3 linked regions of the Homo sapiens genome follow. The protein of the gene in region 1 purifies or fractionates together with the protein of each later gene. This does not show direct contact. Each region holds a gene or a part of one and is shown in the gene's direction. Other genes may lie near its edges. The genes, in order: TEAD4, VASP and FN1.

What was found.
Region 2: the proteins of TEAD4 (region 1) and VASP purify together in Homo sapiens (affinity purification with mass spectrometry; 3 studies listed by BioGRID and IntAct, with this or other methods). This does not show direct contact.
Region 3: the proteins of TEAD4 (region 1) and FN1 purify together in Homo sapiens (affinity purification with mass spectrometry; 3 studies listed by BioGRID and IntAct, with this or other methods). This does not show direct contact.

What each region holds. Positions count from the first base shown.
Region 1 is NC_000012.12:3,018,386-3,022,035, forward strand, and holds part of TEAD4 (transcriptional enhancer factor TEF-3), read left to right. Parts: intron 1-159; coding exon 160-203; intron 204-729; coding exon 730-785; intron 786-2,248; coding exon 2,249-2,388; intron 2,389-3,458; coding exon 3,459-3,632; intron 3,633-3,650. UniProt on the Homo sapiens protein: Transcription factor which plays a key role in the Hippo signaling pathway, a pathway involved in organ size control and tumor suppression by restricting proliferation and promoting apoptosis.
Region 2 is NC_000019.10:45,517,463-45,521,112, forward strand, and holds part of VASP (vasodilator-stimulated phosphoprotein), read left to right. Parts: intron 1-200; coding exon 201-372; intron 373-466; coding exon 467-632; intron 633-3,487; exon of another isoform or gene 3,488-3,650. UniProt on the Homo sapiens protein: Ena/VASP proteins are actin-associated proteins involved in a range of processes dependent on cytoskeleton remodeling and cell polarity such as axon guidance, lamellipodial and filopodial dynamics, platelet activation and cell migration.
Region 3 is NC_000002.12:215,360,224-215,363,077, reverse strand, and holds the end of FN1 (fibronectin isoform 1 precursor), read left to right. Parts: exon of another isoform or gene 1-425; coding exon of another isoform or gene 426-432; intron 433-998; coding exon 999-1,109; intron 1,110-1,451; coding exon 1,452-1,523; 3' UTR 1,524-2,213; downstream 2,214-2,854. Other genes in the region: bifunctional purine biosynthesis protein ATIC, read right to left, coding at 426-432. UniProt on the Homo sapiens protein: Fibronectins bind cell surfaces and various compounds including collagen, fibrin, heparin, DNA, and actin. Fibronectins are involved in cell adhesion, cell motility, opsonization, wound healing, and maintenance of cell shape.

The sequences.
Region 1 (3,650 bases):
GTGCTGCTGTGGCCTGTTAGCATTCACTAGCTAGGCGAGGCCTCGGGCTCCAGCCTCTCCTCCCAGTGGAGGCCCTGCCCGGTCCTACCCCCACCCCCACACCACAGGGCCCCGGGTGCACCTGGGGCCGTGCTGATTCCATGCCTTTTGCCTCCTCAGTTTTGGCAAGGAGCTTTGCCAGGCCAAGCCGGAACGTCCCATGAGTGAGTATGGCCTCTGGTTTCTCTTGCCAGTTGCTCCCTGAACTGAACTTGAACCCATAAACTCATGGCATTAAGCCTGGGCCCCAGGGTGTGCTGGGGCCGCTGCTGGGGTCGGCCTTTCAGGATGGCTCTGAGCTCAGGGATTGGGCTCTTCTACTGTCAGCCATCACTGGGCTCATCTGTGATGTCTACACCCTAGGGTGGTATTTGCCAAAACTCCAGTCTGTCCAGGGTATAGGCAGGGCCAGAGCTGGGGTCCCCCAGGGGAGGAGGCTGGGAAGCAGACCTCTGGCTGGCCTGGGAGGAGGAGAGGGAGGGGTGGATTTCTTCAGCAGACACGCTGTGTCTGTGGACCCGCCACGAAACCCAGGGGAGTCGGCAGGGGCGGGAGTAGGAGGCCAAGGCCCATCGGGACCACTGAAATCCAGACCACCAGGACCTACCACACAGACCACTGGACCCAGTGCAGGGATCCGGGGCGGTGGCCTGCCCGAGGCTGACACCTCCCCTCCTCTCTCTCCCGCAGTGTGAAGCCTTTCTCTCAGCAAACCTATGCTGTCCAGCCTCCGCTGCCTCTGCCAGGTGGGTGGGCGCTGCGTGGCCCCCTTTCTATCGCAGCCATGTGGCTCCTGCCTCTGGGTCCAGGCCCCCGGCAGCCGAACGCCTGCGTGTCCCTGTTAGATGCTGCCCCGTCATGCACACTGACCACACGTCCTAGTCCCTGGCCACACCCCATTCCTTTCCCCCAGCATGCACACCTCAGCCGTGTGCCAAGCCCCTTCATGCCCCTCGGGTTGCCTTGCTCCTGTCCCCTCAAAGCTGTGCTCAGGGCTTGTGGGGCACGTGCAGTTCCAAGGGCAGTGCCCGTGCCCTGGCGGCTGCCCCACTTGGCCGGCCTTGTTACTGCAGTGTGCCTCACACACCTGGTCCTGGGAGGGCCGAGGGGTGTCTAGCTCACCAGCCTGGAGCCCCTCCCGAGAAGAGGGACCCTTGTGGGAGAAGACCTGGTGGAGGCAGCCAGCGGTGCTGACAGGAGCCCCCACCCCGCCCTCTCACTGACAGGCTCTGCTCTGTCCTCGTCTCTTTCTCAGGAGGGGCCCTCACCACCTCCCACTCTGTAGGACAAGACCAGCTCCTCACTCTTAAACTGCCCTTTCTGGTGTGGAGTCTGCCTGCCCGGCCCCTTGGCTTTCCCTGCCACCAAGAGCAGCCCTGCTGCCTTCTGTCCCCCAGGTCCTGAAGGCTGCTTTCTCTCGTTCACACATCAAAACAAAGTCACAGCGTCAGGTCCCGTCCACCCTCTGTCTCATGCCAGTCTTCTGTCCACACTGACCATGTCTTCACTCCAGGCCTGCTGGCTTTTGCCTGCGTTCCTGCAGCAGCCTCTCCACCGGCTCGCTGTCCCGTCTCACCTCCTCTCGTCACCCTGTCACTCACCAGAGCTTCAGTCTCACGGTGTTGCTTCCAGGTTTATGGTGCCTTCCTGGCCCCCTGGTGCCTTCAGGACACGATCTAAACTACAGTAGGACTGGAGTAGGTTCATCTGTTAGCAACGCTGGATTGAGGGGCTCTTCTGGGCCAGGCCCTGTTCTGGGAGCGGGGGAGACACATGTGATGCAAACAGGAAACGTCCCCGTCTCTCCGGGATGATGCCATATTGTAATAGTGGATTCATCTGGTTATTTCCCCGACTGGAACAGAAGTTGCTTGAGGGCAGGAACTTAACAGTGCCTGTTCTGGAAGCCTCTCGGTCCTGCAGGGCCCCAGCTGCCCTCCAGAATCCAGTCTTGCTCGGCGGTTCCATGCAGAGTGCTGAGTGGCCCGAGTTGTACCAGGCGAGCCCCTCCCCACCAGGGCAGCTCCAGGATGCCCTGGCCCAAGCCTGGCACTCCCTCCACCACCTCTGCTAGGAGGTCCATTTAGGGAGACAGGCGGTCCCCCCAGGCAGCACGGGTCTGTCCGAGGAGGCCTGGGGTCCTTGCAGAGGGTGCGGGCAGGGCGGGTGTCCGTGACCAGGTTCCATGTGCCTTTCTCACTTTGTGCAGGGTTTGAGTCTCCTGCAGGGCCCGCCCCATCGCCCTCTGCGCCCCCGGCACCCCCATGGCAGGGCCGCAGCGTGGCCAGCTCCAAGCTCTGGATGTTGGAGTTCTCTGCCTTCCTGGAGCAGCAGCAGGACCCGGACACGGTAGGTCCTGGCCTCTGCCTGTCCAGCTCCCTGGTCACCCCCTCTCCCTCTGTTTCTGCTTCCGGCAGTCTTGCCCCACTCCATGCTGGGGCTTAATTCAAGTTCCCTGTTCCTTTCCGATCTTCCCTTCTGCCCTTCCCCCCACTCCTCCTTTCCTCCTTCACGTCACCCCTCTTCCCTCTTTCCCTCCTCCCTGGCTTCCTTTCCGTGTCCCAGCGCCCAGTCAGCGTCACGCTCCTCCCTCCCTGTCCTGTGTTCCTCCTCCCCTCCTAACCCAACCGACCCTTAGTCCAAGGTTGCTCTGGTCCCAGCCCCACCCCTACACTGTCCCAGCCTCTCTCTGGTTCTGAGAAGCGGGCAGGAAGCTGAGGAGTCTCCTGTGTCTGCTCCATATCCTATGGGATACCAGCCTGTCCCCTTCGGTGTCCAGTGTCCTGGGTGACCAGCGTCACCTGCAAAGGTCAGAGGGGGACCTGGAGGAGGCCAAGGTGACAGGATGCCAGGGCCCTTCTCACTCTGACATCTTCAAACTTCTTTTTTTTTTTTTTTTTCTTGAGACAGAGCCTCACTCTGTCACCCAGGCTGGGAGTGCAGTGGCATGATCTCAGCTTACTGCAACTTCCACTTCCTGAGTTCAAGCGACTCTCCCGCCTTAGCCTCCGGAGTAGCTGGGATTACAGGTGCCTGCCACCACACCTGGCTAATTTTTGTATTTTTAGTAGAGACTGGGTTTCACCATGTTGTCCAGGCTGGTCTTGAACTCCTGACCTCAAGTGATCCACCCACTTCGGCCTCCCAAAGTGCTGGGATTACCGGTGTGAGCCGCCGCACCCGGCTCAGACTTCTTTTTAGCTGAGGAACCCATGAACCAAATAGACCTTTACTTAGAAGTCCAGGATGTAAAACAAAAGGAGTAGACTTTTACCATCTCTATTTTACTCATGGGGAAACTATGGCCCAGAAAGGCCAAGCGGCTTGCACCAGGTCACGTGGTGGGCACGCAGAGCCAGGGTTGTCTGTCTGACCGTCTGGCCTGTGCTCCGTCTCCCTCAGACCCACTCTCTCCACAGTACAACAAGCACCTGTTCGTGCACATTGGCCAGTCCAGCCCAAGCTACAGCGACCCCTACCTCGAAGCCGTGGACATCCGCCAAATCTATGACAAATTCCCGGAGAAAAAGGGTGGACTCAAGGATCTCTTCGAACGGGGACCCTCCAATGCCTTTTTTCTTGTGAAGTTCTGGGTAAGCCTGTGATAACCC
Region 2 (3,650 bases), on another chromosome or scaffold:
TCGTTTGTGTGTTTGCCTGTCTCTCCTGATCTGATTTTCTCTCCTGATCTGTCTCCCCCGTCTCCTTCTGTCCACGTGGCTCCTGCCTCCCTCTGTGTCACTCTCTTCCTTCCACACACTGTCTTTGTCCCTTGGAATCTCCCAGGAGAGACCCAGATAAGAAGGTGACCGGCCCCTCTCCCTTTTCCTCCCGCCTGCAGCGAGACGGTCATCTGTTCCAGCCGGGCCACTGTGATGCTTTATGATGATGGCAACAAGCGATGGCTCCCTGCTGGCACGGGTCCCCAGGCCTTCAGCCGCGTCCAGATCTACCACAACCCCACGGCCAATTCCTTTCGCGTCGTGGGCCGGAAGATGCAGCCCGACCAGCAGGTGCAGCTTCCCGCCGGCCCCCTCTGTGGGCTGAACCCCTACCCGCCCCACCCCTGCGCCCGCCGCCCCTCACCCCCCTTTCCCCTCCCACCAGGTGGTCATCAACTGTGCCATCGTCCGGGGTGTCAAGTATAACCAGGCCACCCCCAACTTCCATCAGTGGCGCGACGCTCGCCAGGTCTGGGGCCTCAACTTCGGCAGCAAGGAGGATGCGGCCCAGTTTGCCGCCGGCATGGCCAGTGCCCTAGAGGCGTTGGAAGGTCAGAAATGGCGGCGGGCAAAGGGGACCAGTGAATGCGGCTGTGTGGCCTGGGGCTGCCGCTTTACCCTGCTGGGACTTGGTTTACTCGTCGGTAAAATAGAGCGAATTCATTGTTATCATGGAAAATTATCACTAGCATTTTGTGCATTCCAGTGTGACCGTGTGCACCTATGTGTAAAATGCACCATTGGCCCGGCGCCGTGGCTCATGCCTGTAATCTCAGCACTTTGGGAGGCCGAGGCACACGGATTACCTGAGGTCAGGAGTTTCACCGTGCCCAACATGGTGAAATTGCGTCTCTATTAAAATTCAAAAATTAGCTGGGCGTGGTGGTGCGCGCCTGTAATCCCAGCTATTCGGGATGCTGAGGGACGAGAAGTGTTTGAACCCAGGAGATAGAGGTTGCAGTGAGCCGAGATCAGGCCACTGCACTTCAGCCTGGCGACAGAGCAAGATTCCGTCTCAGAAAGAAAACAAACACAAAAAAAATGCACGATTACTCAGGGATCAGTACTCCATGAACTTTACACAGGCACACTCCCGGGAAACCACCTCCCAGATCAAGACATAGGTAGGTCCTGCCCCAGAAACAGGATCTCGCTCTGTTGCCCAGGCTGGTGTGCACTGGCACAATCATGGCTCTCTGCAGCCTTCACCTCCTGGGCTCAAGTGATCCTCTTGCCTCAGCCTCCTAAGTAGCTGGGAATACAGGTGTGCACCACCATACTTGGCTCTTTTTTTGTTTTGTTTTTTGAGACAGAGTCTTGCTCTGTCACCCAGGCTGGAGTGCAGTGGTGCAACCTCAGCTCACTGCAACCTCCACCTCCCGGGTTCGCGTGATTCTCGTGCCTCAGCCTCCTGAGTAGCTGGGATTACAGGCATGTGCCACCATGCCCAAGCTATTTTTTTGTATTTTGTTTTTATTTTTATTTTTTTGAGACAGAGTCTCACTCTGTTGCCCAGGCTGGAGTGCAGTGGCACGATATTGCCTCACTGCAACCTCCGCCTCCCGGGTTCAAGCGATTCTCCTGCCCTAGCCTCCCGAGTAGCTGGGACTATAGGCGTGAGCCACCACACCCGGGTAATTTTTTGTATCTTTAGTAGAGACAAGGTTTCACCGTGTTAGCCAGGATGGTCTCTATCTCCTGACCTTGTGATCCGCCCGCCTAGGCCTCCCAGAGTGCTGGGATTACAGGCATGAGACACCATGCCCGGCCCTTGTATTTTAGTAGAGAAGGGGTTTCACCATATTGGCCAGGCTGGTTTCAAACTCCTGGCCTCAAGTGATCCACCTGCCTCTGCCTCCCAAAGTGCTGGGATTATAAGTGTGAGCCACCATGTCTGGCCACCTGGATCATTTCAAATTTTTTTTTTTTTTTTACTTTTTGTGGAGATGGTCTACAGGCTGGTCTTGAACTCCTGGGCTCAAGTGATCCTCCCACTTCAGCCTCCTAAAGTGCTGGGATTACAGGCATGAGCCACTACACCCAGCCCAGTTGCTTTTTTTTTTTTTTTTTGGAGACGGAGTCTCGCTCTGTCCCCAGGTTGGAGTGCAGTGGCGCGATCTCCGCTCGCTGCAAGCTCTGCCTCCCGGGTAAATGCCATTCTCCTGCCTCAGCCTCCCGAGTAGCTGGGACTACAGGCACCCGCCACCACATCCAGCTAATTTTTTGTATTTTTAGTAGAGACGGGATTTCACCGTGTTAGCCAGGATGGTCTCGATCTCCTGACCTCGTGATCCGCCCGCCTCGGCCTCCGAAAGTGCTGGGATTACAGGCGTGAGCCACTGCGCCCGGCCTTTTTTTTTTTTTTTTTTTTTTTTTTTTAATATGGAGTCTCACTCTGTCTCTCAGGCTGGAGTGCAGTGGTGTGATCTCAGTTCACTGCAACCTCCGCCTCCTGAGTTTAAGCAATTCTGCCTCAGCCTCCTGAGTAGATGGAACTATAGGTGTGCACCAACATGCCTGTCTAATTTTTGTAGTTTTAGTAGAGACGGGGTTTCGCAGTGTTGGCCAGGCTGGTCTCGAACTCCTGACCTCAGGTGATCCACTCGCCTCGGCCTCCCAGAGTGCTGAGATTACAGGCGCGAGTCACGCGCCCAGCCCAGTTGCTATTTCTTAAACCTTAACGTGCACATGAATCACCTGGGGATCTGGTTAAAGTGCAGGCTCTGGTGCAGGTGGGCTGGGCGGACTGAGACTCCACATTCTCACAAGTGCCCTGGTGATACCCAGGCTGCTGGTCTGCGGACGTGACTGAGTAGTGAGGTTTTAGGTGACTGCCGTGCATCTGGCCTGGAATCACTGCTGTAGAACTGAAAGTCACCAAATGCAGGGGTGTTTGCTTCGTGGGACAACTTCTGTGCTAGTGCGGAAGGGGCTTGCTCCTCTGGGGCACACAGAAAAATACAGTGGGCTTCAGTTGAGTCATCTGTAAATTGGGGCTAATTCATTGTTAATTCGTAGCCAATTCAATTCAGGTGCTAGGGCCAGAGGCCTGGAGGTAGGTGAGGAAGAAGCTCTTTACCTTTCCAGGTTCTTAGGTAAGGTCCAAGTGGCTGTAACAGTGGTTAAGAGCTAGCCAGGGGCCAGGTGCGGTGGCTCACGCCTGTAATCTCAGCACTTTGGGAGGCTGAGGCAAGTGGATCACTTGAGGTCAGGAGTTCGAGACCAGCCTAGCCAACATGGTGAAATCCCATCTCTATTAAAAATACAAAAATTAGCCAGGCATGGTGGCAGGCGCCTGTAATCCCAGCTACTCAGGAGGCTGAGGCAGGAGAATCTCTTGAACCCGGGAGGTGGAGGCTGTGGTGAGCCGTGATTGCACTGCTGCACTCCAGCCTGGGTGACAGAGTGAGACTCTGTCTCGAAACAAACCAACAGTGGTTAAGAGCCTGGCTGCTGGAATCAGCCTGAATTCAAGTCTTGTTCCTGCACATTCCACCCTGGAGAAATCTGGGGCAAGTGACTGTTCCCCGGGCCTTAGCTTCTCCTGTCACTGGGACATCACAACAGCA
Region 3 (2,854 bases), on another chromosome or scaffold:
AAACAGAGAAATATGTCTAAAATATTTAAATTCTAATATAAAAAAGAAAGTGACTGTATTATTTAGGGCTGCATTTTAGTTGTAAGAAAAAAGTCCAACTCAAGCAAAAATGGCCCACACAATGGAACAGTCCCAGGACCCACCGGCTTCAGGGGCTGCTCCAGCAATGGCGCCCGGACTCCCTCTTGCTCCGCGTGCCTTCCCATGCACTGGCTTCGTGCTTCAGCGGGGTCTCTGCTGATGGTGCCATTGATGACTGACCTCCATGAGCTTGCTTTACCCCCTGCCAGCTTAAGAACAGTAGTGAAAGAGAACATGTGTGTCCTCCCATTTCCAGTAAAAACTTCAGGCAGGAGCCTCACTGGCTCAGCTTGGTCCCGTTTCCATCTCCCATGCCATCTCCGGCCAGGTGACAGGCTACCATGTCACTGCCTAGGGAAGTTTAGGAAGAGAGTGGCAAAGTGGTGCATTAGAAAGAACATGGCCAGGTCACCCCACCTCCTGGGCGGCAGGCCCAACTCCACCAGTGGTCCACTGTGTGACTTCCCTGCTCCCTCTAAGCAAGTCACTCCTCTCCTCTGGGTCTCTGTTTCCTTACCTATAAAATGAGAACGTTTCTTCATGTGATCTCAAGTCCCTTTTAAAATCGCTAGGATTCTTTGAAAACCTTTTCTATCATCTAGTGCAGAGAACTTGTTGAGGAAGTTGGGATTGGAATGAGCCTCAGCAGATGGGCAAGGTTTGAATAGGAAGAGAAGAGACATTTCAGGAGAAAGAAACAACATAGAGAGACAGATGTAGGTATAAGATATGGTAATAAGCCAAAATGTATTAAGAGTTATAAATGCATGAAATCATCATCAAAGCTTGCTTAGTGATTAACTGCTTATATTTTGCCAGTGCATATGATGTGACATTTTTCTTTAACTCAAACACTAAATTACGATGTCCTCAGGTTATCATAAACCCCATTTGACTTCATGCCTCTACTCTCTCAGGGCTGGCGCTGTGACAACTGCCGCAGACCTGGGGGTGAACCCAGTCCCGAAGGCACTACTGGCCAGTCCTACAACCAGTATTCTCAGAGATACCATCAGAGAACAAACACTGTAAGTGCATTAGCAGCACAAGTGTGTTCCCTCATACTAGACAGTCTCTTTCTACAGGTATCTTTCTTCAGAATGAACCAAGTGTTTTAATTAATTAAAAAAAAAAACAACTCATAAATGACTTAAGTGAAACACTGTATTCCATAATATAGTTTAAGTTATAATTTATGTAACTCTTGAACATCTCCTATTGCCCAGTATGCTGCTAGGTTCTTGAAACTAGGAAGAAATATTATCCTATCTATAAGCAGCTGTCATGAGTCCCCACCTCCCCGCATTTTTTTTTCTGTACACTTTACAGTATTTGCCACTAATTTTTTTTTCCTTCTTCCTTTTTAACAGAATGTTAATTGCCCAATTGAGTGCTTCATGCCTTTAGATGTACAGGCTGACAGAGAAGATTCCCGAGAGTAAATCATCTTTCCAATCCAGAGGAACAAGCATGTCTCTCTGCCAAGATCCATCTAAACTGGAGTGATGTTAGCAGACCCAGCTTAGAGTTCTTCTTTCTTTCTTAAGCCCTTTGCTCTGGAGGAAGTTCTCCAGCTTCAGCTCAACTCACAGCTTCTCCAAGCATCACCCTGGGAGTTTCCTGAGGGTTTTCTCATAAATGAGGGCTGCACATTGCCTGTTCTGCTTCGAAGTATTCAATACCGCTCAGTATTTTAAATGAAGTGATTCTAAGATTTGGTTTGGGATCAATAGGAAAGCATATGCAGCCAACCAAGATGCAAATGTTTTGAAATGATATGACCAAAATTTTAAGTAGGAAAGTCACCCAAACACTTCTGCTTTCACTTAAGTGTCTGGCCCGCAATACTGTAGGAACAAGCATGATCTTGTTACTGTGATATTTTAAATATCCACAGTACTCACTTTTTCCAAATGATCCTAGTAATTGCCTAGAAATATCTTTCTCTTACCTGTTATTTATCAATTTTTCCCAGTATTTTTATACGGAAAAAATTGTATTGAAAACACTTAGTATGCAGTTGATAAGAGGAATTTGGTATAATTATGGTGGGTGATTATTTTTTATACTGTATGTGCCAAAGCTTTACTACTGTGGAAAGACAACTGTTTTAATAAAAGATTTACATTCCACAACTTGAAGTTCATCTATTTGATATAAGACACCTTCGGGGGAAATAATTCCTGTGAATATTCTTTTTCAATTCAGCAAACATTTGAAAATCTATGATGTGCAAGTCTAATTGTTGATTTCAGTACAAGATTTTCTAAATCAGTTGCTACAAAAACTGATTGGTTTTTGTCACTTCATCTCTTCACTAATGGAGATAGCTTTACACTTTCTGCTTTAATAGATTTAAGTGGACCCCAATATTTATTAAAATTGCTAGTTTACCGTTCAGAAGTATAATAGAAATAATCTTTAGTTGCTCTTTTCTAACCATTGTAATTCTTCCCTTCTTCCCTCCACCTTTCCTTCATTGAATAAACCTCTGTTCAAAGAGATTGCCTGCAAGGGAAATAAAAATGACTAAGATATTAAAAGTATTTGAATAGTATAATATGGAGGAGTTTTATCTTAGGGAAACCCCATGGTATGATAACCCCCATCTAACATGTCTTACTTTGGGTCAGCTGACACTTTTGGCATGGCTTGATAAACTCCCAGCTAAACAGTTTGTTTACTCCTGATCTGTAAAGGTCATTTCTTTTTCAATTTAACATTGAGGAAACAAACTTTGGGATTAAATTTGACATTCAGGCCAGGCGCAGTG